Regions from separate parts of the Homo sapiens genome. Here all the other regions are linked to region 4. The links come from fine-mapping of genetic effects on gene expression. A gene starts in region 4. Each other region holds a variant in brackets. All regions are shown on one strand. Distances are between the middles of the regions. Region 1 overlaps KCNH4 (potassium voltage-gated channel subfamily H member 4). Region 2 holds the start of GHDC (GH3 domain containing). Region 3 has its middle 4.3 kb from the start of STAT5A. Region 4 holds the start of DHX58 (DExH-box helicase 58).

The links.
Region 1: its variant is fine-mapped to the expression of DHX58 in fibroblasts (GTEx, PIP above 0.99).
Region 2: its variant is fine-mapped to the expression of DHX58 in whole blood (INTERVAL, PIP above 0.99). The same link has a PIP of 0.9 or more in lung.
Region 3: its variant is fine-mapped to the expression of DHX58 in whole blood (TOPMed, PIP 0.98).

Annotation. Positions count from the first base shown.
Region 1 is chr17:42,173,069-42,181,068 of GRCh38, reverse strand. It overlaps KCNH4 (potassium voltage-gated channel subfamily H member 4), which reads left to right. Exons shown (of 17, transcript NM_012285.3): 1 at 1-199; 2 at 2,043-2,276; 3 at 2,592-2,738; 4 at 2,842-2,969; 5 at 4,772-5,015; 6 at 5,333-5,490. The coding sequence starts at 124. Among named protein-coding and RNA genes, the nearest start is that of KCNH4, 4.1 kb to the left of the region's middle. RefSeq lists a silencer at 1-17 and enhancers at 967-1,534, 2,185-2,686. The variant G/A (reference allele first, on the strand shown) is at 3,626.
Region 2 is chr17:42,187,904-42,195,903 of GRCh38, reverse strand. It overlaps GHDC (GH3 domain containing), which reads left to right and starts at 1,410. Exons shown (of 10, transcript NM_032484.5): 1 at 1,410-1,511; 2 at 2,054-2,137; 3 at 2,310-2,587; 4 at 2,877-2,998; 5 at 3,162-3,663; 6 at 4,694-4,886; 7 at 5,001-5,072; 8 at 5,147-5,280; 9 at 5,634-5,719; 10 at 5,983-6,817. The coding sequence starts at 2,323. The coding sequence ends at 6,201. RefSeq lists enhancers at 1,268-1,497, 2,392-2,922. The variant G/A (reference allele first, on the strand shown) is at 4,234.
Region 3 is chr17:42,280,224-42,288,223 of GRCh38, reverse strand. It overlaps a transcript of STAT5B not described here and a transcript of STAT5A not described here. Among named protein-coding and RNA genes, the nearest start is that of STAT5A, 4.3 kb to the left of the region's middle. RefSeq lists silencers at 1-52, 73-152 and enhancers at 169-669, 953-1,012. The variant T/C (reference allele first, on the strand shown) is at 4,785.
Region 4 is chr17:42,108,145-42,116,144 of GRCh38, reverse strand. It overlaps DHX58 (DExH-box helicase 58), which reads left to right and starts at 3,431. Exons shown (of 14, transcript NM_024119.3): 1 at 3,431-3,540; 2 at 3,940-4,032; 3 at 4,252-4,420; 4 at 4,648-4,849; 5 at 5,232-5,422; 6 at 6,759-6,875. The coding sequence starts at 4,253. It overlaps KAT2A (lysine acetyltransferase 2A), which reads left to right. Exons shown (of 18, transcript NM_021078.3): 12 at 312-422; 13 at 1,110-1,253; 14 at 1,541-1,655; 15 at 1,751-1,787; 16 at 1,863-1,926; 17 at 2,061-2,145; 18 at 2,303-3,034. The coding sequence ends at 2,496. RefSeq lists enhancers at 1-105, 1-364, 3,064-3,583, 3,824-3,923, 7,721-8,000.

The DNA of each region.
Region 1 (8,000 bases), 65 kb before region 4:
AGAGGGAGGGGAGGAGGCAGGAGGGCGCATGGGGCGCCCCGGCCCCTCCGACAGCGCGCCCCCTCCGGCCCGGCCGCGCTGAAAGCTCCCCAGCGCCGCGCCTTGAACCCACGCCCCGGGGCCATGCCGGTCATGAAGGGGTTGCTGGCCCCGCAAAACACCTTCCTGGACACCATCGCCACCCGTTTTGACGGAACGCGTGAGTGGGACGGAGGTCGGGGCTTGAGGTTCGAGCTGGGGGGCAAGTATCCTCGGGGCCGTCTCGGATCTCCTGGACATGGTGAGACCCGAGGCGAGGGGAGAGAATGGAGGTGCGGGTCTAGGAACTCCCAAAGCCGCGGTGCAGGAACAGGGCGGGGAGTGCCCTGCGAGGGGAGGAGGGGAAAGGGCCGAGAGCACGGGGGCCAAGGTTAGGGGGTGTGACTCGAGGCAGAAGAGGCTCTTTGTGCGGCAGAGCGGAGGAGGGTCCTTCGGAGCCGCCCACTCTCGGGCAGAGCTGTGCTGGGGGCGTGTATGGGGGTATCCGAGACACAGAAGTGGGGCAAAGTGGCCGGGCATTCTGGGGTCTACTCACAGACTCCAGCTCCCACTACCTCCAGAAAAAAAGGAGAAAAGATCAGACTTCAGCAGGACCTAGTTTGGATTGAGGTCGCGCGCCCCCAAATCGTGGGGCGTCAGTGTCTAAGGTGGGTGAGGCAGGAGGAGGGGAGCGGTCTGTGCGACGGTGGGAACTCCCAGCTCGCCCAACGTAGCTTGGGTTTCAGGTTCAGCACCTTGGACAGCCACATCACTCCTCCCCCGCCTCTTCTCCCGCCATTCCCTCTTCCCACTCTGGAACCCAGAGATTCCCCGCCCTCACCTCCCCCAACCCCGCCATTCCCTCGGGAACCCTGGCCGGGATCTGGATGGTGGGGGAGCGGTACCCGAGGGCGGAAACTGAGCCGCCGGGCCCTACCCTCTTCCCCACCACCTTGTTTCCATAGCGCCCATCACCGGGGCAACAGGCCCTGGGATGGAAGAAGGAGGCTGTGCCCAGAGCCCAGTGCCTCCCAGGCACCTTCAGTGTCCCCATCAGCCTCCCTGCCCCCAGACAGTCATCCCTCCTAGAGCACCAGGACTGGTTGTGTCACAGGCCCCATCTCTTAGCTGAGTCTCTGTCCCTGGATGGCCCACAGGAGTCCCCCTGGCCTCCCACCCATTGGAGCTGGAGGGAGACAGCTCGGGTTCTGCTGCTGGGGGTTGCTGGAGCTATACGCTCAATGCCCTCTCCCATTAGACTTTGAGCAGTGGGGCAGATCCCCTGAAAGCAGCTACAAGAATGCTAAAAAGTGGACCTTCTCTGGAAGGCAGGGAAGGAAGACAGCACTCATCACTGTCTGCCCCCACACTAAGGAGATCTGTGAGTTTGGATAATCTCTGCCTTTTGGTTTCCTATCAATAAATGGGTGTGGTGTCATCAGAATCTCTGCCCTGCTTACTCTGTAATAGGAAGAAAGCCAAGTGAATGTGGGGAAAAAATTTCACCTTCTCAGAGTAGCACTTACCATGTGCTAGGACTTGTTCTCCCCAAGTTAACTCATGTAACTCTCACAACGACCATGTGAGGAAGGCCTATTATGCCCTACTTTGCAAATAAGGAAAGCTTAGGCACAGAAGAGGTCATCAACTTGCCCAAGGTCACACAGTTAGTAAGTGGCAGTGGAGGGTTGCAGGAGCCCAGGCTCTTACTCACCATGCTATACTGCCTTCTACAGTGACAGCTCACCAGTTGGAAGGCAGGGGGATGGATGGCATGACCTCCTGGGGTCCTTCTCCAACTCCCCGTTAGACCCTGCTTAAGTCCTGTCTCAAGTCCTTGTCTCTTTGCTCCAACTTCTCCAATTCTCAATTCAGAATATCCCAAAGTGGGGTCAGGAGCAACATGGAAACCTGGGAAGCTTCTGGCTCTGTGACTTCTAACCCCAACTTAGAGGAAGTGCTGCCCACCTGGAAGCTAGCTCGCCTCCCAGCCTTGACCTGACCTTGACCTCTTCTTCCCACAGACAGCAACTTCCTGCTGGCCAACGCACAGGGCACACGGGGCTTTCCCATCGTCTACTGCTCCGACGGCTTCTGCGAGCTCACAGGCTACGGTCGCACCGAGGTCATGCAGAAGACCTGCAGCTGCCGTTTCCTCTACGGCCCAGAGACCAGTGAGCCAGCCCTGCAGCGTCTGCACAAAGCCCTGGAGGGCCACCAGGAGCACCGGGCTGAAATCTGCTTCTACCGCAAGGATGGTGAGGGGGCTCACCCCACCCTGCAGCTCTGCCTAGACCCCTAGCCTTATCCAGAGGGCACTGGGCACAGTAGGAGTCTGAGTGCTTGTCCCCACACTGCCAAAAGCTGACTGTGACGGAGCGTATCCCTGACCTCTCTGGTCCTGGGTTCCCCCATTTGAAAGATGAAGGAATCGGCTGACAGAATCTCTGAGGTTCCTTTTGGTTCTTGCTTTGCCAAGCTCTTAACTATGTCTAGGAGGATGAGAGGGATGAGGAGAAAGGCATGCCATGGGGCTGCCCATGCTCCTCCCTTCCCTCTCTCCATGCCTACAGGCTCAGCCTTTTGGTGCCTCCTGGACATGATGCCCATCAAGAATGAGATGGGGGAGGTCGTGCTGTTCCTCTTTTCCTTCAAGGATATCACTCAGAGTGGAAGCCCAGGACTTGGCCCCCAAGGAGGCCGCGGGGACAGTAATCACGGTAACAGCAAGTCCGGACGGGCAGTGTGAATGGTCAGAAGCCTTCGCCTAACCAGCCGCAAGGGATGTGCCCCAACGTATCTCTGCACCTTTCTTCCCAACAGAAAACTCCCTTGGTAGAAGGGGAGCCACCTGGAAATTTCGGTCTGCCAGAAGACGGAGCCGTACTGTCCTACACCGACTGACCGGCCACTTTGGCCGCCGGGGCCAGGGAGGCATGAAGGCCAATAATGTGAGTCCCACCCCCAACCCAACATCTCCCAAGTCCTCCAGCCTTGATTCTGAGGCACCCCTGCCACTGTCTCCCCACTTCCCTGTCTGTCTGGTGTCCCTCCTTGGCTTGCTCCTCTGCCCACCCATTTCCCATATACTACTCTATATGGTATATGCTCCATCCTATATCCTCCCCCAACATCCTTCTATCCCTATCTCCCTCATTCCCTTAGGTGATTGACATTACTTTGCTCCGATGATGTCACATTGCTCTAGCAGCAATGACCTCACCTGCCCGGGGGTGATAGGGTTATACCATGGGTGGTGAAATTGCAAGCTGCTATAGTTCTAGGGAGAAAGCCCTCATTGCAGGCCTGGCATCTAGACCTGTGTACCACCTCCTAGGATCCTGACCAAGCCAGGGGATTGAGTCCCCAACCCTCTGTTAGGGATACAGGGAATGCGGTGGGCTATGCCAGCCTCTGCTCCCTGCTGGGATATACCCAGCCCCCACTGGGCCCCCAGAACCCAAGAGGAACTTAAGGGAGAAGTTAGGTACCCCTCAAGCTAGGGCATGTGCCGATTTGTCATAGTCTTCTTCTCAAGTAGGATGAGTGTTGGGCCAGGCACAGTGGCTCATGCCTGTAATCCCAGCACTTTGGGAGGCCAAGGCAG[G/A]AGGATTGCTTGAGGCCAGGAGTTCTAGACCAGCCTGGGCAACATAGTGAGACCCCTTTTCTAAAAAAAAAAAAAAAAATTAAAAATTATCTGGAGGCCAGGCGCAGTGGCTGATGCCTGTAATCCCAGCACTTTGGGAGGCTGAGGCAGGCGGATCACCTGAGGTCGGGAGTTCAAGACCAGCCTGACCAACATGGAGAAACCCCATCTCTACTAAAAATACAAAGTTAGATGGGTATGGTGGCACATGCCTGTAATCCCAGCTACTTGGAAGGCTGAAGCAGAAGAATCACTTGAACCCGGGAGGTGGAGGTTGCGGTGAGCCGAGATTGCACCATTGCACTCCAGCCTGGGCAACAAGAGTGAAACTCTCAAAAAAAAAAAATTATCTGGCTATGGTGGTGCATGCCTGTGGTCCCAGCTACTCTGGAGCCTGAGGCAGGAGGATAGCTTGAGCCCAGGAGTTTAAGGCTGCAGTGAGTTATGATGGTGCCACTGCACTCCAGCCTGGGCACAGAGTGAGACTGTCTCTAAACTTAAAAATGTAAAAATCAAGTTGGGTGAATGTCAAGCCTCATAAATACCCTTGACAAGACATGATTGGTTCAAACAGGGGCCTGGGGCCGGGCACAGTGGCTCACACCTGTAATCCTAGCACTTTGGGAGGCTGAGGTGGGTGGATCACCTGAGGTCAGGAGTTCAAGACCAGCCTGGCCAACATGGCGAAACCCCATCTCTACTAAAAATACAAAAATTAGTCAGGTGTGGTGGCATGTTCCCGTAGTCCCAGCTGTTTGGGAGGCTGTGGCAGGAGAATCACTTGAACCCAGGAGGTGGAGGTTGCAGTGAGCCAAGATCATGCCCTTGCACTCCAGCCTGGGTAAAGAGCAAGACCCTATCTCAAAAAAAAAAAAAAAAAAAAAAAAAAAAAAAAGGAGGAGGGCCTGGGAAATACTTGGCAGGAGAAGAAAATGTCAGGTGTCAGCCTCTGCGCCCCTCTCCTGGCCTTCTATCTCCTTTCATTCATGGTCAAAAGTGCCCTTGCAGTGCCCACCTGCTAACTTTCCCCATCCCCTGCCTTTCCCACCCCCCATCTTGGCTCCTCTTTCCCTCAAGTGTCCCCAACCGCCACCCCTCTCCCCTTAGAACGTGTTTGAGCCAAAGCCATCAGTGCCCGAGTACAAGGTGGCCTCCGTGGGGGGGTCTCGCTGCCTCCTCCTCCACTACAGCGTCTCCAAGGCCATCTGGGACGGCCTTATCCTCCTTGCCACCTTCTACGTTGCGGTCACCGTCCCCTACAATGTCTGTTTCTCGGGTGACGATGACACCCCCATCACTTCGCGACACACCCTTGTCAGCGACATCGCCGTGGAAATGCTCTTCATCCTAGGTCAGACCTTCTGCCTCACCCACCCTGGTGGGTCGGCTGGGGGGATCCACTTGGCCAAGCCTCACCCACTCCTGGGGCCCACATGACCCAGACATTCAGAGCCCCTTCCTTTCTGCATCTTTAAGTCCCAATGGCCCATGTGTCCTGCTCCCCGCAGCCTTCAGCCTTGTAACCTATCCTCCCTAAGGACCAGCCAGAAGCCCAATCTATCTCTCCATGCCTGCCTCCTCCTCCAGTCTCCAAAGCTTGTTCCCAGCTTTGTCGGTTTCTTGACCCCTTTGCCAAGGCCCCCCAGTAATAGCCTCTTGCACCCCCAGATATCATCCTGAACTTCCGCACCACCTATGTGTCCCAGTCCGGCCAGGTAATCTCTGCTCCTCGTTCCATTGGCCTCCACTACCTGGCCACCTGGTTCTTCATCGACCTTATTGCTGCTCTGCCCTTTGACCTGCTTTACATCTTCAACATCACCGTGGTGAGTGACCTCCATCCCGCCATCCAGTCCAACCTCCCAACTTCAGCACAGCATCTTCCAGGAAGGGACTGACCCCAAACCCAGATATGCCCCTTCCCATCAATCCATCTGCAGATATTTATCAGGCACCTGCTCTGGGCATAGCCCTGTGCTAGGTACTGGGAGGATCCCGAGGGTCTGTGATCCTGGGGAGCTCAGCTCACAATCTTTGAGGGAAGCTGAGACAAATGAAAAGCTAACTATGGCTACCAAGGCGGCATTGGTCTGATGCCAAATGAGTGGTACTTTTCACATTTTTATTTAACAAACAACTGATGAGCATTTAGCTGTCTGCAAAGCACTGTGTGGGGCATGGCCACTGTGGGGAAAGGGAACAAGGATTCAGCCTCTAAACAGCCAAACTGGTGAGGGGGCAGGAATGCCACAGAGCACATCAGGGACAGAAGAGGTGAATGGGGGTGGAAGATGGGGCCCGGGTATGCTACAGAGGGGCTGGGCTGACCTTGGAGTTCCAGGCTGGAACATGAGTGTGTGTAAAAATGATCTGAAGTCTGGCCAGCACCTGGGAAGCAAAAGCGCCCTTGTTGGGCAGAGGCTGGAGGGGTCTGGGAAGGTTTCCTGAGGGAGGCGGAGATGGTATAGCTAGACCTTAAAGGGTGAGTAGGATTTAGCTGGAAGGAGATGAGGACAGCAAGCATTTGGGGGAGCATAGTAAACCTAGACAAGAAGGTAGAGGCTGTGGGGTGAATTCAGAGGCAAAGAATGCCAGGACCTGAGTCCTCACAGATCCCTGGGGACACTCTGGAGGTGCCCTGAGTGGTCATCTGTGGCCCCAGCCAGCAGATAGTAGGTCTTCTCAAGTCCAGGGTGGGGCAGTGCTACCCCGTGTCCCCAGGCCCCCTTGGGTGTGGGGCGGGCAAGTGGGGAGCAGTTTCCTTGTGTGCTCTCTCCCTGCACTCAGCTATAGCAGGAAACCACCTACACGCAGCCGAATTTAACTAGCCGCCAACGGGCTGTGGGCCTCCTCTCCTGGCTGTGCACACGTGTGTGCGTGCTCCCACACACGTGCATGTGTGTACGTCTGCCTCGAGGCTCTGACCATTCTGAGCAGATCTCCCTACCCCTCCCCAGGGGTGCGCCCACCCCTCTATGCCCACCAGGCACCATCAGCTGGGGAGTGGGACACTACAGAGAGCCCCCTGCCCCTCCTCTCAGGTCCCTTTGGGAGCACGTTACAGTTCCCTATGTTCTTTCACACTCATCATCACATGGGAGCCCCACGGGAACCCTTCAGGGCAGAGGCTTATCCTTTTTCAGAGGTAGGTACAGAGGCTCAGAGAGGTTCAGTGACTTGCTGAAGGTCACATACCTAGCAGGGGCAGGCAGGATATTAGAACCAGGTCTCTCCACCCTGGGCAACAGGTGAAACCCCTTCTCTACTAAAACACAAAAAATTAGCCGGGTGTGCTGGCACGTACCTGTAGTCCCAGCTACTCGGGAGGATGAGGTACAAGAATTGCTTGAGTCCCAGAGGTGGAGGTTGCAGTGAGCCAAGATAGCTCCACTGCACTCCAGCTTGGCCGGGCGCAGTGGATCACCCTGTAATCCCAGCACTTTGGGAGGCCCAGGCGGGCGGATCACGAGGTCAGGAGATCAAGACCATCCTGGCTAACATGGTGAAATCCTGTCTCTACTAAAAATACAAAAAAAATTAGCCAGGCGTGGTGGCAGGTGCCTGTAGTCCCAGTTACTTGGGAGGCTGAGGCAGGAGAATGGTCTGAACCCGGGAGGCAGAGCTTTCAGTGAGCCGAGATTGCGCCACTGCACTCCAGCCTGGGCGACAGGGACTCTGTCTCAAAAAAAAAAAAAAAAAAAAAAAAAAAAAGAACCAGATCGCTAAACTTCCAGTCTAGTATTTTTTCCAACATACCACCCTGCTTCCCAGGTAACCAGGGCCCCTGAGTGGATGGTCTGGTGAGATGAGGAATACCACTGGGGGCCAGAGAGAGGTAGAGCAGAGACAGAAGATGAGCAGGCACTGGCAGAGCTGCAGACTTGAAGGAGCCAGGCCTGGATATTCTAGTCCAAGGAGAATGACAGGAGTATCCCCAAGAGAGTGGCCCAAGGGCAGCTGACTGAGGGAAGCCCTGAAGAACTCAAGCTTGCAGTCAAGGGCTCTGGGAGCTGGGGGTAGGCATTAAACCCTGGCGAGGGTCCATATGGAGGAATCAGAGCCACCTCCTTTCCAGTTCCTTCACCTAAAATTAGAGAAAAATTGCACGAGGTGGTCCAGGAGCAGTGTAGGGCCAGGGCTGTGGGGAATGTTCCTGGAGGCCCAGGAAGGGGCAATGAGGGGCTTTCATACCAAGTTCCCCAGGCACTGCCCCAGAGCCTCCAGTCCTAGCTGCCAGGCTGCTCCCACCCAGAAGATAAGCCCTGCCCATCTCCAAGATTGAAGGGCTAATCAATATTGATAACCACAATGCAGATGGTACTTGGGGTAATATTAG
Region 2 (8,000 bases), 80 kb before region 4:
GGTGACATGGTGAAACCCCGTCTCTACTAAAAATACAAAAAATTAGCTGGGTGTGGTGATGCGTGCCTGTAATCCCAGCTACTCGGGAGGCTGAGGCAGGAGAATTGCTTGAATCTGGGAGGCGGAGGTTGCAGTGAGCTAAGATCGTGCCATTGCACTCCAGCCTGGGCAACAAGAATAGAACTCTGCCAAAAAAACAAAAAAAAAGAAGTTTGTAATTTTCCTTGGGATAAAGCCAGCAAGCTAACACAGATGTTCACCTAATAACCATGTAAAGTTAAGATAAACTATGTGACTGGCTGGGTGTGGTGGCTCACACCTGTAATCCCAGCACTTTGGGAGGCCAAGGAGGGTAGATCACTTGAGGTCAAGAGTTTGAGACCAGCCTGGCCAACATGGTGAAACCCCATCTCTACTGAAAATACAAAAATTAGCTGGGCGTGGTGGCACACACCTGTAATCCCAGCTGCTTGGGAGGCTGGGGCAGCAGAATCGCTTGAACCTGGGAAGTGGAGGTTGCAGTGAGCTGAGATTGTGCCACTGCACTCCAGCCTGGGCAACAGAGCAAGACTGTGTCTCAAAAAAAAAAAAAAAAAAAAAAGATAAACTATATGTGACAAGTCCTCTTACTTGAGGACTCGTTATTGTTTATCTTGAAAACGTGTATGTAATGGGTTGTATGCGCTTGGCTATACAAAAAAGTAAGATTTCCTCCCTTCTTTGCAAGCTCTTAGCAGATCACCTGTCATGTACATCACATTGTGGTTGAATGCTTATTCAATAATAAAATTGTTTTCTTTCTCAACTACCTTGAGGGAGAGGATGGGGTTTTTTTTGTTGTTGTTTTTGTTTTGTTTGTTTTTGAGACGGAGTTTCGCTCATTGCCCAGGCTGGAGTACAATGGCGCAATCTCAGCTCACTGCAACCTCCGCCTCCCAAGTTCAAGTGATTCTTCTGCCTCAGCCTCCCAAGTAGCTGGGATTACAGGCATGTGCCACCACATCTGGCTAATTTTGTATTTTTAGTAGAGATGGGGTTTCACCATGTTGGTCAGGCTGGTGTCAAACTCCTGACCTCAGATGATCCACCCGCCTCAGCCTCCCAAAGTGTTGGGAATACAGGCGTGAGCCACCGCGCCCAGCTGAGTTGGGGTTTTAAGAGTTCTTAAGCTTGCCCCTCTCCCAGCTCAAGTGGCTTAATGGCGTTCTTTCCCACACACACCTTTCTGTTCCTTCACCTGCGCAAGTTTGAGGACCATGCTAGTCTGGTCCTAACTGCCCCAACTGCCAGCCTGGGCTAGCACCCGACATGAAGTCCTGTAGGCGACCTGCCCCTTTAAGAGCACCCCCCTCCTTCAGCTCCTCCCTCAGGCCTGGTGGCCGGATTTCCCAGTTGGGGCCCAGCCTTTTAAAGCCATCGCTCCTTCTTTCTGGCCGGATGTGTGCTGAGACCCAGAGTCACCCAGGGGTCTCCGTCACGTGCCAGGAGTAGGCAGAAGTGGGCTGTGACAGGTGCATGTGGGCATGGACCCCACAGCCTGGGGCTCAGGAGGGACAAGGAGCTGGGACAGGGTGGATCCCGAGAGAAAGCAAAGCCACTCGGGAGTGGGCAAGAGATATCGTTACGCAGCTGCTGTGTGCCCGACCGACCCTGTCCGAAACCCTTCCTGTACCTTCCCTTCCTCTTCCTTCTTTTCTCCCTTTTTTTTCTTTTCTTTTTTTTTTTGACAGGGTCTCACTCTGTTGCCCAAGCTGGGGTGCAGTGGCACGATCTTGGCTCACTGTAGCCTTGACATCCTGGGCTCAAGGGATCCTCCCATCTCAGCCTCCCAAGTAGCTGCGACTATGGGTGTGACACCACGCTGGGCTAGTTTTTCAATTTTTTGTAGAGATGGAGTCTCCCTATGTTGCTCAGGCCGGTTGCAAACTCCTGGGCTCAAGTGATTCTCCTGCCTCAGCCTCCCAAAGTGCTGGGATTACAGATGATAGCCACCTCACCCGGCCCACCCCTACCTTCTGAAAGAGGCATTCTTATTCTTATTCCCATTTTGCAGATCAGGAAACAGAGCTCAGTGCAGCCCACTAAATTGCTCAGGGCCCTACAGCTAACAAGCGGCAGAGGCAGGATCTGCACTCAGGTCAGTGGGACTCCAAAGCTTTGATAGTCTCTCCTTTGCATCACCTGCCCCACAGGGTCCTGCCTTCTTCCCAATTTCATTTTTCCTCGGTTTTCCTGTATGCAGTAGAGCGTGGGAGGAGAAATGGATAATTGCTGCATGCCCCCATATCTCGGTTCCTTCCTCTTCCCAGGAGCTGCTTGGAGATGCTGCTGTGGCCACTGCTGCTGCTGCTGCTGCTGCTGCCAACATTGGCCCTGCTCAGGCAGCAGCGGTCCCAGGATGCCAGGCTGTCCTGGCTTGCTGGCCTCCAGCACCGAGTGGCATGGGGGGCCCTGGTCTGGGCAGCCACCTGGCAGCGGCGGAGGCTGGAGCAGAGCACGCTCCATGTGCACCAGAGCCAGCAGCAGGCCCTGAGGTGGTGTCTACAGGGAGCCCAGCGCCCCCACTGTTCCCTCAGAAGGAGCACAGGTGTGTTTCCCAGGGTCTGGGGAGGTGACCCAAAGAGAAAGAAACCCCACAGGACCGTCAGATTCCAGAGCCTGATGGCCCCCTTACCTCCTCCACTGCCAACGGAGTGGCCTGACCCAGAGACCCAGGACTGGCTTTCTTGTCCAAGATGAATTTCCCATGCTGGGTCCTTACATCCTCTCTACCCCAGGCCTATTCTCGGTTCCTCCCTCAAGGGTCTCACCAGTCTTGCCTGAAACTCTTGGGAAACTGGCTTCCTGAGGCGTTTCTGTTGTCATTGGGGCTATAGACATAAGCACCTTCCGGAATCATCTCCCTCTGACCAAGGCCAGCCAGACCCAGCAGGAAGACAGTGGAGAGCAGCCACTGCCCCCGACCTCAAACCAGGACCTTGGGGAGGCCTCTCTGCAGGTAATCTAGGATGGCCAGAGCCCAGTCCTGGCCACAGCCCAGTCCCACCAGAGACCTCTGACTTGCAGCCAAACCCTCCAGTCATGGTGGGCAAAGAACCCCCAAATGGGGGCTCTGGGTCTGGCTCTGACACCAGACCAACATTCTCTCTTTCCTCCTCCAGGCCACCTTGCTGGGTCTGGCAGCCCTAAACAAGGCCTACCCAGAAGTGCTGGCTCAGGGACGCACTGCCCGTGTGACGCTTACATCCCCTTGGCCCCGACCCCTGCCTTGGCCTGGGAATACCCTGGGCCAGGTGGGCACCCCTGGAACCAAGGACCCTAGGGCCCTGCTGCTGGACGCACTGAGGTCCCCAGGGCTGAGGGCACTGGAGGCTGGGACGGCTGTCGAACTTCTGGATGTTTTCTTGGGCCTGGAGACTGATGGTGAAGAGCTAGCTGGGGCGATAGCTGCCGGGAACCCTGGAGCGCCTCTCCGTGAACGGGCAGCTGAGCTCCGGGAGGCCCTAGAGCAGGGGCCACGGGGACTGGCCCTTCGGCTCTGGCCAAAGCTGCAGGTGGTGGTGACTCTGGATGCAGGAGGCCAGGCCGAGGCTGTGGCTGCCCTCGGGGCCTTGTGGTGCCAAGGACTAGCCTTCTTCTCTCCTGCTTATGCTGCCTCGGGAGGTCAGTGGGACTCAAGGGCAGTGAGGTGGGGGCAACGGTCAGTGGTCACATGACAAGCAGCCATGCATTGGGCCCTACATAATCATCTCATTTAATCCTCCCCAACAAGCTGCATGCTAGGGCCAGCAGCCTCCTTTTACAAGTGAAGAAATTCAGGCTCTCTAGGTTAAGAGTCTTGTAGCTGGGTGCAGTGGCTCACGCCTGTAATCCCAGCACTTTGGGAGGCCAAGGTGGATGGATCGTTGAGGTCAGGAGTTCCAGACCAGCCTGGCCAACATGGCGAAACCCCATCTCTACTAAAAATACAAAAACTAGCGGAGTATGGTGGTGCACGCCTATAATCCCAGCTACCTGGGAGGCTGAGGCGGGAGGATTGCTTAAACCTTGGAGGCAGAAATTATAGTGAGCTGAGATCGCGCCATTGCACTCCAGCCTGGGTGACAGAGCAAGACCCTGTCTCAAAAAAAAAAAAAAAAAAAAAAGGCCGGGGCAGTGGCTCACGGGTGTAATCCCAGCACTTTGGGAGAGGCTGAGGTGGGTGGATCACCTGAAGTTAGGAGTTTAAGACCA[G/A]CCTGGCCAATGTGGTGAAACCCTGTCTCTACTAAAAATACAAAAATTAGCCAGGTGTGGTGGCAGGCGCCTGTAATCTCAGCTACTCAGGAGGCTCAGGCAGGAGAATCACTTGAACCCAGGAATCACTGAATCACTGAGCCGAGATCGCACCACTGCACTCCAGCCTAGGTGACAGAGCGAGACTCTGTCTCAAAAAAAAAAAGAGTCTTGCACAAATTCATGTGGCACCAGGATTCACTCCCAAGTCTGCCCCCTCCAGGACCACAGCACTCTGCCTCTTTCCAGTGAGGGCCTAAGAGGCAGCCCGCTGAGGCTGGGGGAGCCAGGAAGGATGTGGTGGAAGGGCAGCAGGAGGATCAGGTGCTCAGAGGATCAGGCCTGGGATCCAGGAGGGGCTATTGCCTGGCAGAAAGCGATGGCACCAGCAGACGCTGAGGAGGCTGCTTTGCTTTCACAGGGGTGCTGGGCCTAAACCTACAGCCAGAGCAGCCCCATGGGCTCTACCTTCTGCCCCCTGGGGCCCCCTTTATCGAGCTGCTCCCAGTCAAGGAAGGCACCCAGGAGGAAGCTGCCTCCACCCTCCTTTTGGCCGAGGCCCAGCAGGGCAAGGAGTATGAGCTGGTGCTGACGGACCGCGCCAGCCTCACCAGGTGATCAGCTGCACAGCCCCTGCTACCTGGGGCCCTATGGGACCGTGCTGGGGGCCTGGGGCATGAGCTCAGAAGACCTTGGGCCCGACCTCACTCCCACTTGCACCCCATCAGGTGCCGCCTGGGTGATGTGGTGCGAGTGGTTGGTGCCTACAATCAGTGTCCAGTCGTCAGGTTCATCTGCAGGTAGGTGACCCCGGGGAGCTGAAGGGCCATCCTTGTGTCCTGGGCTCCACTGCCTCTCCCTTCCTCCTCTTCAGGCTGGACCAGACCCTGAGTGTGCGAGGGGAAGATATTGGTGAAGACCTGTTCTCTGAGGCCCTGGGCCGGGCAGTGGGGCAGTGGGCGGGGGCCAAGCTGCTGGACCATGGCTGTGTGGAGAGCAGCATTCTGGGTGAGCCTCCCCACCGGCTCCTGCCTACCATCCTTGAGCTACCCTTCAACTCCTACCTCCCCTGCCAGGGGACTGCTAGGAAAGAGATAAGCCTCCTTTACTACTCCTACAAAAGTCCTTCTCTGCATCTAACTCTCATCCATCCTGCTGCAGTCTCTACCCATTTTCTTTCCTGATCTGTCTCCTATTTAGGATCAAGCTCTAGGTTCCTCTCCATTTACCCCACTCCCCACCAAGAAACTCTTTTTTCCCTATGAATCTCAGAGTGGGGAAGAACAGATAGGGCAGAGGACACTAGACTTGGCAGCTGCCCATTCACCGGAAGTATGTGTGCACATGGGGTCTATTCACAGATTCCTCTGCGGGCTCTGCTCCCCACTACGAGGTGTTTGTGGCGCTGAGGGGGCTGAGGAATCTGTCAGAGGAAAATCGAGACAAGGTAAAGGAGACGAGGACAGGGTCTGACTGTAGACCCCTTCACTCTGCACACTCCCAGGGTGCCATGGAGATCAGGGCTGATGGGAAGGAGAGGGGTGGCGGAGGAGAAGCTCCCTGGGGCTCTGGGAGGGGAGGGCTAAGTCCCACAGACACACACCTGTCCACACAAAACTTCTAAACACATGTAGCCTGGGCACAGCCACACACGCCTCGTGTGCACACTCACAGTCACACACCAGCTCACTCAGGCTGTTCTGTTCCCAGCTGGACCACTGCCTTCAGGAAGCCTCTCCCCGCTACAAGTCCCTGCGGTTCTGGGGCAGCGTGGGCCCTGCCAGAGTCCACCTGGTGGGGCAGGGAGCCTTCCGAGCACTCCGGGCAGCCCTCGCTGCCTGCCCCTCCTCCCCCTTCCCCCCTGCGATGCCCCGGGTCCTTCGGCACAGGCACCTGGCCCAGTGTCTGCAGGAGAGGGTGGTGTCCTGAGTCAAGTCCTGCCCCACCGCCCAGCTCCCCCCAGAGGCCACCTCGCCCCTCCCTCTGGGACCTCTCCGGATGGGGAGTCCTTGGCCAGGGTCTCTGACTCTGTGTCACCTGACATTTGCCCATGAGAGCCGCTGGGCCTTAGAGAGGCCTTGGCCCAGCTGACCGGTTCTGAAGTATGGGCCTCCGGGGTTAGCAGATGCCAGCAGTGCCTGCCCGTGTCCCCATGTCCCGGCATGAAGGACACTGCTAGAGAGTTACCATGCACACCGATGGTTTCCTGTATCACAGCCCAAAGAGGTTCTCTGGTGGCCACAGCTGTGTGCTCAGTCAGTGCACTGGGCAAGCTAGAAGTGTTGGGGGGTTAATGTCCCCAGGAGCAGCAACCCTGAGTCAATAAGGAGCAGGACCTCAGCTTCATTGTCCTTGAGCAGGACAATTCTGAAGTGTATTCTACATAAACTCTCAGAGGATGCCCAGCAGGATGGAGTCCCAGTTGCCCGCAGCAGTAACCCACTCATTCATGTACTTCCTGCGGGGGCTCTCCCTTCCCTCTCTTCCCCACTCCCCCGCCTTGGGCTTCCTGGGATGGCTCCCAAATAAACCTCTTGCACCCAGATTCTTGCCTCAGGGTCTGCTTTGGGGAAACGGGAGTGGACCCCGGCCCAGCCATTCCCCCACTGAGCTCCAGGACTTTCCCCCAACATTCTGCTCTGGGCCTGGCAAGGCTGCATGCGCACACAGGAGCCTTGGAGGACTCGTGGCACATCCTAGGCCAGCACCCACAAACCACTTCTGCGGTGGGGAAGGGAGAGCTATTACTTCACATCATAAGGCATCGCCGCAGGAAGCAACTCCGGAGACCATCTGGGTTCACTGTTCCATACTAATGAGGAAACGCAGCCTCCACAAGGTTGTAGAGGCTAAAATAAAAGAAAGAAAGAAACTGGGCTAGATTTTGGCTTCCTTCCCTCCCACTGCCTGGACTGGAGTTTTAAGGTTTTCCATCTTGGAGGCTGATGGGAGGGGCAGACCTCAGCTCCTCCTCAGTAGAGGCAGCACTGGATCCAGATGCCTCTGAATAGCTTCTCCATTCCATGTCCCACACCCAGGTCCTGGCTGCATACCCACCCGGCCCCCACCTCCGCCTGTCACTCCATCCTGTTAAAATCTTCCTGTGAAGCTGGGCACAGTGGCATGGGCCTATAGTCCCAGCTACTCAAGAGGCTGCGGTGGAAGGATGGTTCATGCCCAGGAGTTCAAGACCAGCCTGGGCAACACAGCGAGACCATCTCGGGAAAAAAAAACAAAAAAAAAAACCTCCCATGGTGGCCCCCATCGCCCACAGGATTAAGACCAATCAATTTGGCCTATTAGACCCTTTGACCTTGGCCCTCACCTACATGTGCAGCTACCTCTCTCCCCTTGCTTGAAAGAAGGCCTGGACTAAGGACCACGCCTCACCTCCCATCTAAGGGTTGTTAAGCACTGTCAACTCCAGGAGTTTGCTCAAGTTGTCCCTTCTATGTAATGCCCTCTATCCCGCTGCCCCTGATGTAAACTAGCTTTCATGCAAGGCCTTTGAGGACCCCCTACCAGGCCCACCCCAGGCAGAGTGACTGGCTCAGCTTTGCTCATGTGGGCAGTAGTCCTCTCCTTCACTGAACTATCATTATGCCTGAACTGCCTCCCACCTGGAATATGAGTTCCTTGGAAACTGGGCTAGATCCTGTGCACAATTGCCCCCATGCCCAGTGCCTGGTGTGGCATGCAGCAGGAGCTCAATAAAGAGGTTGTAGGCC
Region 3 (8,000 bases), 170 kb before region 4:
CGGGTCAGAATAGCCGGGGGAATGTGGTTGTCGGGCGTTGCCGGGAAATCCCGGGCTCTGGAAATCCCAAACCTGGGCCTCAGTTTTCTCATCCGCAAAAAGGGAGGAGGGAAAAGTGGACCAATTGGCGACGCCTTCCAGCTCTGGCGCGTGTCATCTTTTGAGCCCCTAGATTAAAAAATAAATGTGTGGGGTGTGTGTGTGCACGCGCGTGTGTGCGCATGTGTGTCTTGGGGGCCACAGGTTTTGTGACCTCAGAGACAAAACTGTAGAGAGGGGAAGAACTGGGGATTCTAGTGAAGCCAAGATCACCCCCACCACCGCAGCACCTCCCTCCTTCTTTTACTCCGGCCATCTAAACTCAACCCTGACGGAGGAACTGGAAAGAATCTTGGCAGTCATGTGTTTCAGCCCTCCCCCTCTCCACAATTTTGCAGGTAAGAAATGGAAGTCCTGAGAGGGAAAGGGGCTTGCCCGGGGCCACCCAGGGCCACACAGTAGGCACGTGGCCTCACCAGCCGACTGTGATCCATAAACTAGCCAGCGCCCCCGTTCACCCAGCCTAGTTACTTATGAGGCTGGTTCTACCTTCAGAAAAGTCCAGGGAGGGACCGTCTTGAGTCCTCCTAACTTCGAAACTCTCTACAGGCCTTGCCACAGCAGTGAATATCCTGTCTAGAGCCTCAGTCCCCCTCTCCAAGAGGCCCCTTCCCACGAGGCCCAAGGGGTTTGGTAAGGTCGGGCTGGACGCCTTCCATCCCCTTTGCCCAGCTTCCCTCTCCTCTGGGCCTCCCCTCTGCCTGGCAGCGGGTTGGCAGCACCAGAGGAGGGGCCAGCCCAGCTGCCCACTCACAGCACAGCTGGGCCAAGACTGCATGTTCTGTTGGGGGGGGTGCATTCTCATCTGCCTCCCTCCCCAGCTGCTTCTCAGAGCTGCCCTTTTCTCTCCATTTCCACTCTCCTTTCTTGCCCCTTACTACCTCTCCCAGTTTCATTCTTTTAACTTCAGAGGAAAAAAAAAAAAAGAACTTCAAAGCTGCAGAAGCCAAAATGTCTGCGTTCTCCCCACCTTCTCTGTGTGGTCACAGTGTCTTAGTTGGCAGGATCACGAGGAAAGGAATTGAAAACTCTAAGGGGGTGCATGGAGGATGTAGGGAAGCCTTGCTTCCCAGATGCTCTGCAGGGGGCCCCAGGGAGGAGGAAGTATAGTCCCTCTCCTCTCCTTTCCCACTCTGAGCAATGGATTTGGCAGGGGAGGGTCAGACACAGAGCTAGGGGGTCAACTGGAATGAAAGCCAAGTGCCACAGCTGGAAGTGACCATAAAGATGATTTTACAAGTGGAAAAACAAAGGCCAGAGAGGGGAAGTGACTTTGCCACCGTCATGCAGCCTGTCGGTGGCTGGATACAAACCCATTGCCACATTTGGGTGGGTCCCACTTGGCACCTGTGCCCTCCAGCAGTTCCCTTCAGGCAGGTGTGGAAGTCAGTTGATGGGAGCAGATTCCTCAGGTTTTCAAGTCCTCTCACCCAGGTCTGGAGGGCAGAGGGCCACCCTTGCCATGCACTGACATCTGGGCACCTGATGGGGTGGGGGTGCCTGCTTAAGAGAGGGGGTCCTGCCTGCTCTCTTCCAGGCAGCCACCTCTCTAGACTTCTCCTCCAGGGCCTGCAGAGGCCTGTTGCTCCAGCAGGCAGCCCCACCCACCAAACATCTGTCTTGGTTGGGCCGGGCTTGGCTTTAGTGTGGGTAGTCCTAGGTCCTAAAAAGCTAGCATTGAGGTGCCAGAGTACAGAATGGGAAGGATGGGCCTAAAAGGGTGTGTGGCTGTGTTTTCAGAGCCCTCCCGTGCCTCCCACCCTGACCCTGTGCCCAGTGGCTGTGCCCTTGGTTGACCATCCCTCATTTGGTCTCTGACTGTAAGGCCCCGAATATCTGTGTCTTTCATTGCACATTTCCCCTTCTGGGTTTTTTTTTTTTTTTTTTTTTTGAGATGGAGTTTCGCTCTCGTTGCCCAGACTGGAGTGCAATGGCGCGATCTTGGCTCACAGCAACCTCCACCTCCAAGGTTCAAGCGATTCTCCTACCTCAGCCTCCCGAGTAGCTGGGATTACAGGCATGTGCCACCACTCCTGGCTAATTTTGTATTTCTAATTTTGTATTTTTAGTAGAGGCGGTGTTTCTCCATGTTGGTCAGGCTGGTCTCGAACTCCCGACCTCAGGTGATCCACCCGCCTCGGCCTCCCAAAGTGCTGGAATTACAGGCATCAGCTACCATGCCCGGCCCCCACTCTGGCTTTTATTCTCTCTGTGTCTCTCCCTTGTCTCCTTAGGTCTCCATCTGGTTCTCTGATTCTGTCTGGGTTTCTCTCCATTTCTTCAGGCCTGTTCTCCCTTTGAGATGCAGTGGGGAGGAGGAGGAGCTATGGAACTTTCCCAGGATGGGCAAAGGGCACCCAAGGGAGTAGAGGGAAGGGTGTCAGAGTTGGGTTGGGAAGAGGTGACTGTAGTCGTGGCTCCAGATAACACAACTACCCAGAAATGTCAAATTTGGGGTTTCTTTTTGCTTTCAGTCCCCTTGTTTGTCCCCTTGTGTGGGTGATTTCCCACCACAAAGTGCCCTGGTGATTTTGGGGAACCAGGCTGTGGAGGAGAAAACTGAGGCCACGGGATGGGGGTTCAGGAAGATCAGAAACTGTCAAGGGTCTGACTGAGCTGCGGTCCGAGGCTGGCCTCCTTGCCCCTAACTGCTCTTCACCCCCAAATCCAAGTCACAGTATTAGATGGGGAGTGAGGAAGGATTTTAGAAATCTTACAGAAATATATTCCCCAGGCTAGGTGCAGTGGCTCACGCCTGTAATCCCAGCACTCTGGGAGGCTGAGGTGGGAGGATCACTTGAGGCCAGGAGTTTGAGACCAGTCTGACCAACATGGTGAAACCTCGTGTCTACTAAAAATACAAAACAATTAGCTGGGCGTGGTGTCACGCACCTGTAATCCCAGCTACTCGGGAGGCTGAGGCACAAGAATCTCTTGAACACAGGAGGCGGAGGTTGCAGTGAGCCGAGATCATACCACTGCACTCCAGCCTGGGCAACAGAGTCAGACTCTGTCTCAAAAAAAAAGAAAAGAAAAAAAAAAAAGCAATATATTCTCCAAAAGAAGACCTCCTATATTTTATTAGGAATAATAATAGTCTGCAGCCTAGGCTTCAGTTGGCACACTATATTCGTATCCTGAACTACATCAAGGCACATTTGTGTACAGACATGGTTGTGCTCTTCAACTCAACGGATCCTTTCAATAACCTTGAAGGCAGTCAGGGCCAGAATCACACCCTTTGATTAGTCCATGAAAGAAACCTGCCCAAAGCTGTCTGGCCAGTAAGTGCACAGATGGCACCAGGATCCAAGTTGCCGGGCCTTGTGGGCAGGGTCTCAGTATAACCTTTCTAAGCTTCCCCAAGCCCAGCACACACCGGCGGAGTGAAGAGGCCTCCCTGGGCTGGGCTAGCCCACCATTTTTCTGCGGTGCGGAGCATGGCATCTCCATTCTCGCCCAGCCTACACCCCTGCTCTATTGAATGGGACAGTGTGCTCTGTGCACACTTACATGAAGGTGGGTTTGAGTTTATGGATTAAGAGAATTATCCCAAAGGGCCGGGCATGGTGGCTCACGCCTGTAGTCCCAGCACTTTGGGAGGCTGAGGCGGGTGCATCACCTGAGGTCAGGAGTTCGAGATCAGCCTGGCCAATATGGTGAAACCCCGTCTCTACTAAAAATCCAAAAATTAGCTGGGCGTGGTGGTGCACACCTGTAGTCCCAGCTACTCAGTACGCTGAGGCAGGATAATCACTTGAACCAGGGAGGTGGAGGTTGCAGTTAGCTGAGATCACGCCGTTGCACTCCAGCCTGGGCAACAAAAGCGAAACTCCGTCACAAAAAGAAAAAAAAAAAAAGAGGGAGAGAGAAAGAATTATCCCAGGTCCCCTTTCTGCCTTGCCCTTGACGATCAGGTCTGCCCATGCCCCTACCCTGGGGAGAACAGATTGAGGTCACCTTGACTTGACCTTCCTTGGGGGGTGGAGGGAGGTGGTACAGAGATGCCTTTGTTTCCTGTGCTCCAAGTCCCTTCTTCAAGGAGAGTTCCTGTTACATGGGAGCCAGAGGGGAGGTGGGGTAGGGGTGAAGGGCCTTCCCAAGAAAGCTGGAGGCTTTCTAGGAAGTATCTTTTCACCCTGCGGCAAAGGGGAGAAGCCCTGGAGCACTTAAACATCCTGTTTCACCCCCACCTTGCCTCTGCTTGGACAGCCTACCTGCACTCCAGCCCCCACCGGAGAAGGCTTCTAGAAGTGGGGCCATGGGCCCATGCTCAGAGTATACCCCACCTCTGAGGCCAGGCCCTGGTACCTCCCTATAGAAATGCCACCCCCATTCTTGTCCAAGAAGACAGATCAGGACCTAGGGAGGGTGTGTGTTTATATGCACAGGGTGAGGACTTCTGTGCAAATCTGGGGGAAGGGAAGGAGCTGCCGGAGCTTGGGTGAAGCCCGTTCCTGCCGCTGTCCCCTATCCACCACTCTTCAGGGAAGTCACTTTACAGTGAAGTCACCAAGAGAACACAAGGCCATCCTGCCTGAGGCATAGTGACTGTCCTCTGTTTCTGGGAATAGCATGAGGGGAAGGGTGTGGGGCTGGACAGGGTGGGTAGGAGAGGAGTCCTGCTTCCTCTGCCCAGCTGCCCAGCCTGCCTGCCCTGGGGGAGAGGCTTGTAGGCCGGTTTC[T/C]TTCTGGACGAAGAGAAGAGGATGCAGAGTCTGTGCCAGGTTCACATTTCCCAGCCAGTCAGGTGGGCAGGAGGAGCCCACCCTTTGCAGCCCCCTCATTGCAGGGCCAGGCCCAGGAGCCTGGAGAGAGGAGAGAGGGCACACAGAGCCAGGCAGCTGAGTGGAATTGGCACTGTCCTGGGCAGCCCTGGGTCAAGCCTGGCTTCTCATCCTCATCCATGATGACTATCAGGCCGCTCTTCCCGCTGAGCTAGTTTCTCCTCCTTCCAGCCCAACAAGAAATCTTTTGTGCCTTGGCCAGCCCAGTACCCAACCTCAAGCCCTCTGGGGGTTGTGTGCGAGGGGGCTGAGCATCTTCCACGACACCTCCCAGTACTCTGCCACTTTCCTTTGTTATGACTGGAGGGGGTTCCTTTCTGTAGAATCTGTTTCTCATTGTTTCTTCGTTTCTTAAGTCTCAGATCTACCCACATCTTCCTTGCTCCAAGCCTCAAAAAAGTGCTTCGGCCAGGCTTTTCCCCTTACGCTGGCCTCTCAACTCCAAGCACTAGCCCCTTTCATTCCATCTACCTGGAATGTCATTCCTCCCTTGGCCACCTGGTGAAATTGGCCTCATCTTTCCTAGGGTTAGTGTGGCCTAGAGGAAAACACAAAGGCTTTGGAGTCATAAGGTCCTGGTGCAGACCCTGGCTCTGCTGTAGGATCTTGAGTGAGTGAGTCTGCCTCTTGGATCTAAGCATCCTCACTTGTAAAGAAATAGCAAGACCCACTGCTGGGATTTCTGTTAAGACCCAGTCACAGGCCCGGTGCGGTGGCTCAAGCCTGTAATCCTAGCACTTTGGGAGGCTGAGGCAGGTGGATCACCTGAGGTCAGGAGTTTGAGGCCAGCCTGACCAAGCCAGCACAGACTCAGCATGGTGAAACCTTGTCTCTATTAAAAATAAAAAAATTAGCCAGGTGTGGTGGCAGATGCCTGTAATCCCAGCTATTTGGGAGGCTGAGGCAGGAGAATCACTTGAACCTGGGAGGCAGAGGTGGCAGTGAGATGAGATCACACCACTGCACTCCAGCCTGGGTGACAGAGCGAGACTCTGTCTAAAAAAAAAAGACTCAGTCACAGTGGCTGGTGCATTGTAGGTGCTCAGAGGCCTTGGCCAGTAGAGCTGGGTGTTTTTTCCTCTGCCCTTCAATCCCATCTGTATTACAGGCCCCTTCTTATGGCCCTAACACATTGCCTAAAGGGCTATGTCCCACTGCTTGTCCACAATAGAGTCTTCATAAATATCTGTTGGATTAATGAAGGCCCCTAAACCAGCACAGAACTTCCGGAGCTTTGACGGTTCAGGGCAGCCCCCTGTTCACTGACCACCCCCACCATGGTTCCCAGAAGACTCTCCCCCTGCTGCCCTGGCCTCTGCCTGCTCTGGTCCCACTGAGCTGCTTTTCTACACACAGTGGCAGCAGCAGCCTCATCTTTGCCTGGTGCTGGGCTGAATTTTGAGTTCTTAACCTGCCTGGCAAGCCAGCAAGATACTGGCTGCAGTGGCACTCTGCTCCCTCCTCTGCGTCCGCCCCACCCTCCCTGGATAATGCTGCATCCCCCAGGACTCTGGGTGGAGAGAGCCCAGTGACCCTGTCCCAAGAGGCGGGGTCGGGGGATCCTTGGCCTTTCCAGAGAGCCCACCCTTTAGCCTTTAGCTCTGGCTGGAAGGGAGCCCAGATTGGTGAGGCACACAGGAGCAAGACTGAGAGCAGGTGTGTGAGACTCTCCAGGTGGCGAGTCCTCCATGCACCTGCACATCCATCGCTCCCGTCCTCTCCCCTCCCCTCCATGTGACAAAGCACCAGCTCTCTCCTGGCCAGCACACTGGCTGGGATTAGGCTGAGGGAAAGAAAGAGAGAAAATGCTTTTTTATCAAGTGCCAGGCACAGTGCTTAGTTGCCTTCACAAATGCTCTCCTTTTTCCTTTAAAAAAACTGTCTATTTTACTAATGTTTTAATAGGGAGCATCTGCACATGATATATGTATTTTGTAACAAAAGATTCAAAAGGGTATGTGGTGAAAAGTTAGTCTCTGCCCTTTCCTGTCCCCCAGGGCCCTTCTGGAGGGGCAACAACAGTTGCTGGGGTCTTTTGTGCATTTAAATGCACGGAAGGATTCTGTGGATTTGAAACATATATTACACTCTACCCCCTAACTATGATTTACACGTGATGGGAAACTGAGATCCTCAGAGACATTAAGTACCTAGACCAAAGTCACACAGCTAGTTTTTTTTTGTTTTTGTTTTTGTTTTTTTTTTTTGAGACGGAATCTCGCTCTGTCGCCCAGGCTGGAGTGCAGTGGCGCGATCTCTGCTCACTGCAACCTCAGCCTCCCGGGTTCACGCCATTCTCCTGGCTCAGCCTCCGGAGTAGCTGGGACTACAGGCGCCCGCCACCACGCCCGGCTAATTTTTGGTATTTTTAGTAGAGTCAGGGTTTCACCGTGTTAGCCAGGATGGTCTCGATCGCCTGACCTCCTGACCCACCCGCCTCGGCCTCCCAAAGTGCTGGGATTACAGGTGTGAGCCACCGCGCCCGGCCAACAGCTAGTAAGTTAGCAGAGCTGGGATTTAGAACCATATCTAACTTTTCACCACCAATGCTCTGGCAGAAGTAAGCAGGGGCACTGACAGAGCCCTCCGAAACTGCAGAGCCCATTCCAAACCGAGGCCACGCCATTCTGAGGCCTTGGAGATCTGGCATCCCCGCCTTCTTTTCTGTTGAGCATCCTATACCTTCTCCACATGGCTCCAGGGTCCTGTACTGACCTATCCCCCTATGGAAGGATTCATCCCCACAGGGAAAAAGGGACATTCCCACAGTGCCCTTTCTTAGCAAATGTGTGGCCGGTGGTTGCCCAGGGTCAGCCTGACTCCTGGGATGCAGGAGGGAAGCCATAATAACGAAGGCCTCTGGTTTCTGGCCAGAGGGGATCATGGTTGTGGCTTCAGTGACGTTCCCAGAAAATGGCCTCATGATCTCTGGGGCAGGAGTGAGGGAGGATGTGAAGCAGGGAAGCTGCCCCCTCTGAAAGCCATGTGTTCATCTATGAGAGAGAGAGGGGAGGAGGCTGTAGGATGGGAGCAGGGGCATGCATGGACAAGGGCTGTGGACTAGACCCCCAGGCTCTTCCCCCAAGCCTCTCTCCTGGGTCAGGCTGGTGCACTAAG
Region 4 (8,000 bases):
CGTAGCTGAGTTTCGGTTTTCTCTTCTGTAAAATAAAGGTGGTAATACTCGCCTCTGGGGTTAATTTGAGAATCGGTCTGTAAAACAGGAAGCACTGCACCTAGCCCAGAGTGAGCTTAGAAAGCCCGCACCCTTCACTTTCTCCCCATAAGCTCCCCTTCCTCTGTCAGCTGCCTTTCTTCCTCTTTGCCTGGATGCTCTCGCTCTCTCTACCTCCTTTCCAATCTACCCGCTCTTCTCTGGTCTCTGAGACCTCTCCAGCACCAGGCCCATCCTCAGCTCCTGGTGAGTCCTGCTTCCCTCCCCCGCAGGGTTATGGGACCCACCTGATGAACCACCTGAAGGAGTATCACATCAAGCACAACATTCTCTACTTCCTCACCTACGCCGACGAGTACGCCATCGGCTACTTCAAAAAGCAGGTGACCCGTAGCCTCGTCCCACACCGGTCCTTTGCCTGGAGGCTGGGGTAATTCTGTCCAGCCCCTCTGTGGATGGAGTAGGAGTCCCTTTGCGTCCCCTACTTCACCTGACACCTGCCAGGAGAGTCTCCATGCCTATCTTCTTTCCTCTGCTGCCATTGCCCCAGGGGAGAATGAGGGCCTGTGGGGCCAGTAGAGCAGGCCGGAGGAACTGGGGGTCAGTAGAGCATCCTGGAGGAACTAGGGGGCCAGTAAAGCAGGCCGGAGGAACTGGGGGGGGCACTAGAGCAGGCTGGAGGAACTGGGGGGCTAGTAGAGCAGGCTGGAGGAACTGGGGGGCCAGTAGAGCAAGCTGGAGGAACTGGGGGCCAAGAGCAGGCTGGAGGAACTGGGGGGCCAGTAGAGGAGGCTGGAGGAACTGGGGGGCCAGTAGAGGAGGCTAGAGGAACTGGGGGGCCAGTAGAGCAGGCTGGAGGAACTGGGGGACTCTTCGGGATGAGTCAGGAGTGGGCAGCTGACCTGGGACCTTTCCAGGGACAGTTTGAACCCTCACAGTGCCCCAGGAGGAGGTTCAGGAGCAGGAGGTGGCAAGTGGCACGTGCTACTCCTCTGGTGCTCCCAGGTGAGGGACGACAGAAGTTGGGAAATACTTATGGATGGACTGGGTCATGACCATCCACCCCCCAGGGTTTCTCCAAGGACATCAAGGTGCCCAAGAGCCGCTACCTGGGCTACATCAAGGACTACGAGGGAGCGACGCTGATGGAGTGTGAGCTGAATCCCCGCATCCCCTACACGGAGCTGTCCCACATCATCAAGAAGCAGAAAGAGGTGGTGTGCACACATGCGCATCTGTGGGATTTTTCATGAATGGGCATGCAGAGGGCGAGCACACGTGTGTAGACCTGTTCTACGTCTACATGCATATATGTGTGTGAGTGAGGAGGGGCAGGCCAGGATCTTGGCTCTTGCTCTGCTCCCTTGGGGAAGTTATGAGGGGAGGTGCTGGATTAGGTGGCGTTGCAGCTGGGTGGGTGCAGCCAGTGGCTCCGACTGTGGCCCTGGGAGGGGTTGTTGTTGGGGCTGGAGTTGGCCCCTCAGTCCCTTCCTTCCCTCAGATCATCAAGAAGCTGATTGAGCGCAAACAGGCCCAGATCCGCAAGGTCTACCCGGGGCTCAGCTGCTTCAAGGAGGGCGTGAGGCAGATCCCTGTGGAGAGCGTTCCTGGCATTCGTAAGCAGGGGTCTCAGTTGCAGGGTAGTGGGGGCACGATGCTTGGGGTGTGGACTGGCATTCTTAGAGACATTCTCCCACTTCCCACTTTGCAGGAGAGACAGGCTGGAAGCCATTGGGGAAGGAGAAGGGGTGAGTGTCAAAGGAGCCGGGTTGGGGGTGGGGCAGAGGGACTTGGAGCCTCAGACTTGGTGTCTCTCGCCCCAGGAAGGAGCTGAAGGACCCCGACCAGCTCTACACAACCCTCAAAAACCTGCTGGCCCAAATCAAGGTGGGGAGACCAGGTTTCCTTTCCAGGGCCCCTGCACCAATGGCTGTGGCCTCTTGATGCAGTGTGGGGTGGGTAGTGGTCTCGGGCTGGCGTGGGCGCAGCAGGGCTGTCCCCAGCCCGGCTCTTCTCTCCAGTCTCACCCCAGTGCCTGGCCCTTCATGGAGCCTGTGAAGAAGTCGGAGGCCCCTGACTACTACGAGGTCATCCGCTTCCCCATTGGTGAGGACCTTCCATTCCATCCCCTTCCCTCCTCTTCTGTCCCCACACCTGCTCCTGCCCTCACTGCGCCCTGCAGCCCCAGGGGGCCCACCCTGGTGGACAGCCCTGCCGTGGTCTTCAGCCTCTTAAAGCTGTGCTCCGTCTCCTGCTGCCCCAGACCTGAAGACCATGACTGAGCGGCTGCGAAGCCGCTACTACGTGACCCGGAAGCTCTTTGTGGCCGACCTGCAGCGGGTCATCGCCAACTGTCGCGAGTACAACCCCCCGGACAGCGAGTACTGCCGCTGTGCCAGCGCCCTGGAGAAGTTCTTCTACTTCAAGCTCAAGGAGGGAGGCCTCATTGACAAGTAGGCCCATCTTTGGGCCGCAGCCCTGACCTGGAATGTCTCCACCTCGGATTCTGATCTGATCCTTAGGGGGTGCCCTGGCCCCACGGACCCGACTCAGCTTGAGACACTCCAGCCAAGGGTCCTCCGGACCCGATCCTGCAGCTCTTTCTGGACCTTCAGGCACCCCCAAGCGTGCAGCTCTGTCCCAGCCTTCACTGTGTGTGAGAGGTCTCCTGGGTTGGGGCCCAGCCCCTCTAGAGTAGCTGGTGGCCAGGGATGAACCTTGCCCAGCCGTGGTGGCCCCCAGGCCTGGTCCCCAAGAGCTTTGGAGGCTTGGATTCCTGGGCCTGGCCCAGGTGGCTGTTTCCCTGAGGACCAGAACTGCTCATTTTAGCTTGAGTGATGGCTTCAGGGGTTGGAAGTTCAGCCCAAACTGAAGGGGGCCATGCCTTGTCCAGCACTGTTCTGTCAGTCTCCCCCAGGGGTGGGGGGTATGGGGACCATTCATTCCCTGGCATTAATCCCTTAGAGGGAATAATAAAGCTTTTTATTTCTCTGTGTGATTGTTTCTTTGGTGTAGTCCCAGCCTTAGCAGGCTCACCTTGGCCCCCAGGGACCTCTTGCAAACTGGAGGCTGCTCTCCCCAGCAAGCCTCAGGCCTGGTCCTGTGCTCCTGGGGTGATGGGTCCTACCTGCCTGCAGCCCCCCACCTCTCCCTCCTCCAGGCTGCTCCTGATCCAGATGCCAGGGCAGCAGGGGTCAGAACCTCCTGCCTTCACCTTAACCTGGGTGGATGTGGTTACAACTGACTGCAGAAGGGCCAGAGCGTAGAGGATCCTGTAGCACTGAAAGAGTGCTTCCCTGTTAGCACACGTGGTTCTTTTTCTTGGGGCAGGGATAGGAGATTCGTAAGTCGGCTCAGCTGGCTCCTCCCCTCAGTTTCAGTTTCCATTTCTGATTTCTGCTCTCTGCGCTGAGCACAGCGGCACCAGGCTGAGCTAAGCAGGGCCGCCTTGGGCAGGCCTACGTGGTGGTGCAGGCGAGACCCAGGCTGGGCAAGGCGCAGGTGTAGCCTGTGTTACTCCCACCCCCCCCCACCCCCACCTTTTGGCCACAGCAGGCTTCTGATGAGTTTTGAGGGTGTCCCCCCCCCCACCTCCCTCAAGTGGGGTGGAGTCCTGGGCAAAGGGAGGTCTCTGTACCGACTGCTCTGGCCAGGAGTTGGGATGAGTGGAGGGCCCAGTGGGTCTGAGTCCCCTGCCATTCCCAGAATGGAGCTGTGGCCCTACCAATGGGAGGTGATCATGCCTGCCAGGGCGCTGGCGCAGCAGCAGTACTTAACCGGAGTTTGTACTCACGGCAGTTGGCGATGACTGTTAGCACAAACGGTTCTTTTCTCTTGGTTCTTTTTCCTGGGGCGGGGATGGGAGATTCCTAAGTCGGCTCAGCTGGCTCCTTCCCTCAGTTTCAGTTTCCATCTTGGGTCTCTGAGCTGAGCAGAGTGGCACCAGGCTGAGTTAAGTGGGACTGCCCTGGGCAGACCTACCTACTAGAGCAGGTGAGTCCTGGGCTGGGCAGGGGGCAGGTGTAGCCTGTGTTACTCCCGCCTCCCCCTTTTGGGCAGAGCAGGGTCCTGATGGGTTCTGAGGGAGTCCTGCCCCACCTCCCTCAAGTGGGGTGGAGTCCTGGGCAAAGGGAGGTCTCTGTACTGACTGGTCTGGCCAGGAGTTGGGAGGGGTGGAGGAGTCGGTGGGTCTGAGTCCCCTGCCATTCCCAGAATGGAGCTTCGGTCCTACCAATGGGAGGTGATCATGCCTGCCCTGGAGGGCAAGAATATCATCATCTGGCTGCCCACGGGTGCCGGGAAGACCCGGGCGGCTGCTTATGTGGCCAAGCGGCACCTAGAGACTGTGGATGGAGCCAAGGTGGTTGTATTGGTCAACAGGGTGAGTGGTCTGTCCCTACCCCGCTCTCCCACCACCAAGCAGGGTCTTAGCTCTTCAGGCATCTCCCAGTCCCCACCAGAACTCCAAAGCTGCTGTGGCCATCGCTAAGCTCACCTGTCTTTCCACCCTGGCTCAGTACCCAGCCATGTCCTGCGGGTCACCTTACCGCCTCCCTACCCCTGGCCCCAGATTCAGCTCTCTTTTCCCAGCTCATTCTCCACCCCCAGGTGCACCTGGTGACCCAGCATGGTGAAGAGTTCAGGCGCATGCTGGATGGACGCTGGACCGTGACAACCCTGAGTGGGGACATGGGACCACGTGCTGGCTTTGGCCACCTGGCCCGGTGCCATGACCTGCTCATCTGCACAGCAGAGCTTCTGCAGATGGCACTGACCAGCCCCGAGGAGGAGGAGCACGTGGAGCTCACTGGTGAGGGCCATGGCCGGGAGGAAAAAGATACGCATCTGGGGTACCTCCTTTCGCCAACCCCAGGGCACCTCCTGGAGTCAAGGTGTTGGGAGTTTTAGTGGGAGTGAGGGGTTGCCTGTTCACAAAACCCCTGCAGGCACTCTAGTAGAAACAGGCCGGGCTATCGTGTAGGATCTTAGGCCAGTCCCTTCCCCAGCTGAGCCTCGGTTTACTAATCTGTGAAATGGAAAGAAGTCTTCCCTGCCTGGCTCCTCATCCTGGGACCAGCTGCAGGTTGTGAAGGGAAGAAGGAATTCTTACATCATTGTGGGGACTACTTGAAAGCTGATGGGAGGAAGGGCTTTGCAAACATAGGTCACAGCCTTCCCCCCTGTGCCCTCAGTCTTCTCCCTGATCGTGGTGGATGAGTGCCACCACACGCACAAGGACACCGTCTACAACGTCATCATGAGCCAGTACCTAGAACTTAAACTCCAGAGGGCACAGCCGCTACCCCAGGTGCTGGGTCTCACAGCCTCCCCAGGCACTGGCGGGGCCTCCAAACTCGATGGGGCCATCAACCACGTCCTGCAGGTCAGCCTGGCCCCTGTGGGCCTCCCACTGCCAGACCCACCAGGGACTTCCCTCCCTCCCTGCCTGCCCTGCCACTACCCCGTCCCCACCAGCCCTACCAGGCTCTCCATGGCAGGGTCTGGCCCCTTCCTCACCTAAGACCCAGCCTCCAATGGTTTCTTATGGTACAAAGAATTAACTCCCGACTCTACTGTGGTTTACAAAGTTCCACGTGATCTACCTCTCCACCTCATTTCCTGCGCCCTCCCTGTTGTAGCTCATCCTACAGTTACACTGGCCTGCCTTCTGCATGTTGAACATGTAGGGCTTGTTCCATCTCGGGGACCTTTGCATTTACCATTTCTTTTGCCTAGAATGCGCTTCCCTTTGAACTTTTCCTGCTGCCTCCTCCTTGTCATTCATTGAACAGCTTAATGCCACCTCTTGAAAGTCCTCCCTGATCTCTGCTCTCTGTCATATCATCCAGTGCTATCCTCTTCAGAGCTTGTTAATGCGCTCTGCAAGGTTTTATTGTTTTCTTTTTTTTTTTTTTTTTTGAGATGGAGTCTCACTCTGTCGCCCAGGCTGGAGGGCAGTGGCATGATTTCGGCTCCCTGCAACCTCCGCCTCCCAGGTTCAAGCGATTCTCCTGCCTCAGCCTCCCGAGTAGCTGGGATTACAGGCACCCACCACTATGCCCAGCTAATTTTTTGTATTTTTAGTAGAGACGGGGTTTCACCGTGTTGGCCATGCTGGTCTCGAACTCCTGACCTCGTGATTCACCTGCCTTGGCCTCCCATAGTGCTGGGATTACAGGCGTGAGCCACTGTGCCCAGCCTCTTTTTTTTTTTTTGAGACGGAGTCTCTGTTACCCAGGCTGGAGTGCAGTGGCACGATCTTGGCTCACTGCAACCTCCACCTCCCGGGTTCAAGTGATTCTTCTGTCTCAGCCTCCCGAGTAGCTGAGACTACAGGCGCGTGCCACCATGCCTGGCTAATTTTTGTATTTTTAGTAGAGGTGGGGTTTCACCACGTTGGCCAGGCTGTCTCAAACTCCTGACCTCAGGTGACCCGCCCGCCTTGGCCTCCCAAAGTGCTGGGATTACAGGTGTGAGCCACCATGCCTGGCCGGTTCTATTATTCTTTTACTGGTTTATTATCTGCCTCTCCAACTCCAATCTGAGTTCCTTTGTATCCCCAGTGCCTAGAACAAGACGGGCACAGAGAGGGCGAGCAATATTTGAGTAGACGAATGCCCACATTCTCCTGTCCTCAGCTGGGATCCATCCTGCCCCAAATCTTTGACCATTGTCCCCACAGACCCTCCCTTTCCAGTAAAGTCCTCTGTTGCCCCCAGCTCTGTGCCAACTTGGACACGTGGTGCATCATGTCACCCCAGAACTGCTGCCCCCAGCTGCAGGAGCACAGCCAACAGCCTTGCAAACAGTACAACCTCTGCCACAGGCGCAGCCAGGTACGCGGGGGCAGGGACACGGCGAGAGCGGGAGCCGGTGTGAAGTTAGGACACCTAGGCTTGGGCCCTGACTCTGCCCTCACTAGCTCTGTGACTTCAGGTCACTTGCTATGTATCCAAGCCTCAATTTCTCCTTTCTGTGAAATGGGGCAGATACAGCCCATGCCCACAGCCCGCTCTTTGGATTGACTCAGAAGGCACCACTGGTGTCTGTCACATCACTGTCATGCTGGGGAGTGCACTACAAACCAGAGAGCAGGGATACTTTGTGCTGAGGCTCTACTGAGCCCTCTCTAGTGTGGACACGGCCTCGTGTCTGCCATGACTGGACTGGACAAGGACTAGGTGTCAGGTCCATAACTATACCAAATGTTACACTTGGGGTCAGGTTTGAGCCCATGCTGTGGTCTGGAGGGAGGGAGTGAGTGAGCAGATAGCTGAAAGAACCCTTGGGGGGCCATAGGCAGGTGAAATGTAGTTTTATTCAGCAGCGGCTCTCTCACACTGTCCACCTTTATCTGGGCTGTCTGCTCCGGCCCTGTGGCTCCTGCTGCCCCCACGCCTGCAGCTGCTCTCCCTGGCCGGCAAGGCCAGCTCTGTCAGGGTCAGCAGCTTAACTCTTTCCCTCTGGGCACAAGCGGGTTCCTGGCTCCCCACTGCCCACCTTCAAGGCGACCGGCTGTCCCTTGCAGGGGTTAGTAGCATTATTCTCTCTCTGGGCGAGCAAGCGTGCCCTGCCGTGCCGAGCTGAACCAAGCTCCGTGAACAGCGTCAGCAGGGCAGTTTTACCTTCTACTGACAGTAGAGTCCAGTATGAACTTACACAAACAGGTTATATAGCAAGTGGAGTACGTGCCTGCCCCCCAAACTCGCTGAGTCACTCTGGCCCGGATGTCCGCCTCGGCCTATTCCTTGACCAAAGCACGTCCATGTGCCTTACACTAGGCATCACCGTGCCCAGGCCAAAGGGTAAGAGCACATCGCGGGTGAGACAGGGCAGGACTCCCCCACACCCTAGCCGGCCTCCCTCTGGAGCTCACACCACAGCTAAGACAGATGGGTGAGGCAGTCGCGGTGTGCTACACGCCGGGGTCAGCACCCCCACTGGGTGCCCATCCTCCAACG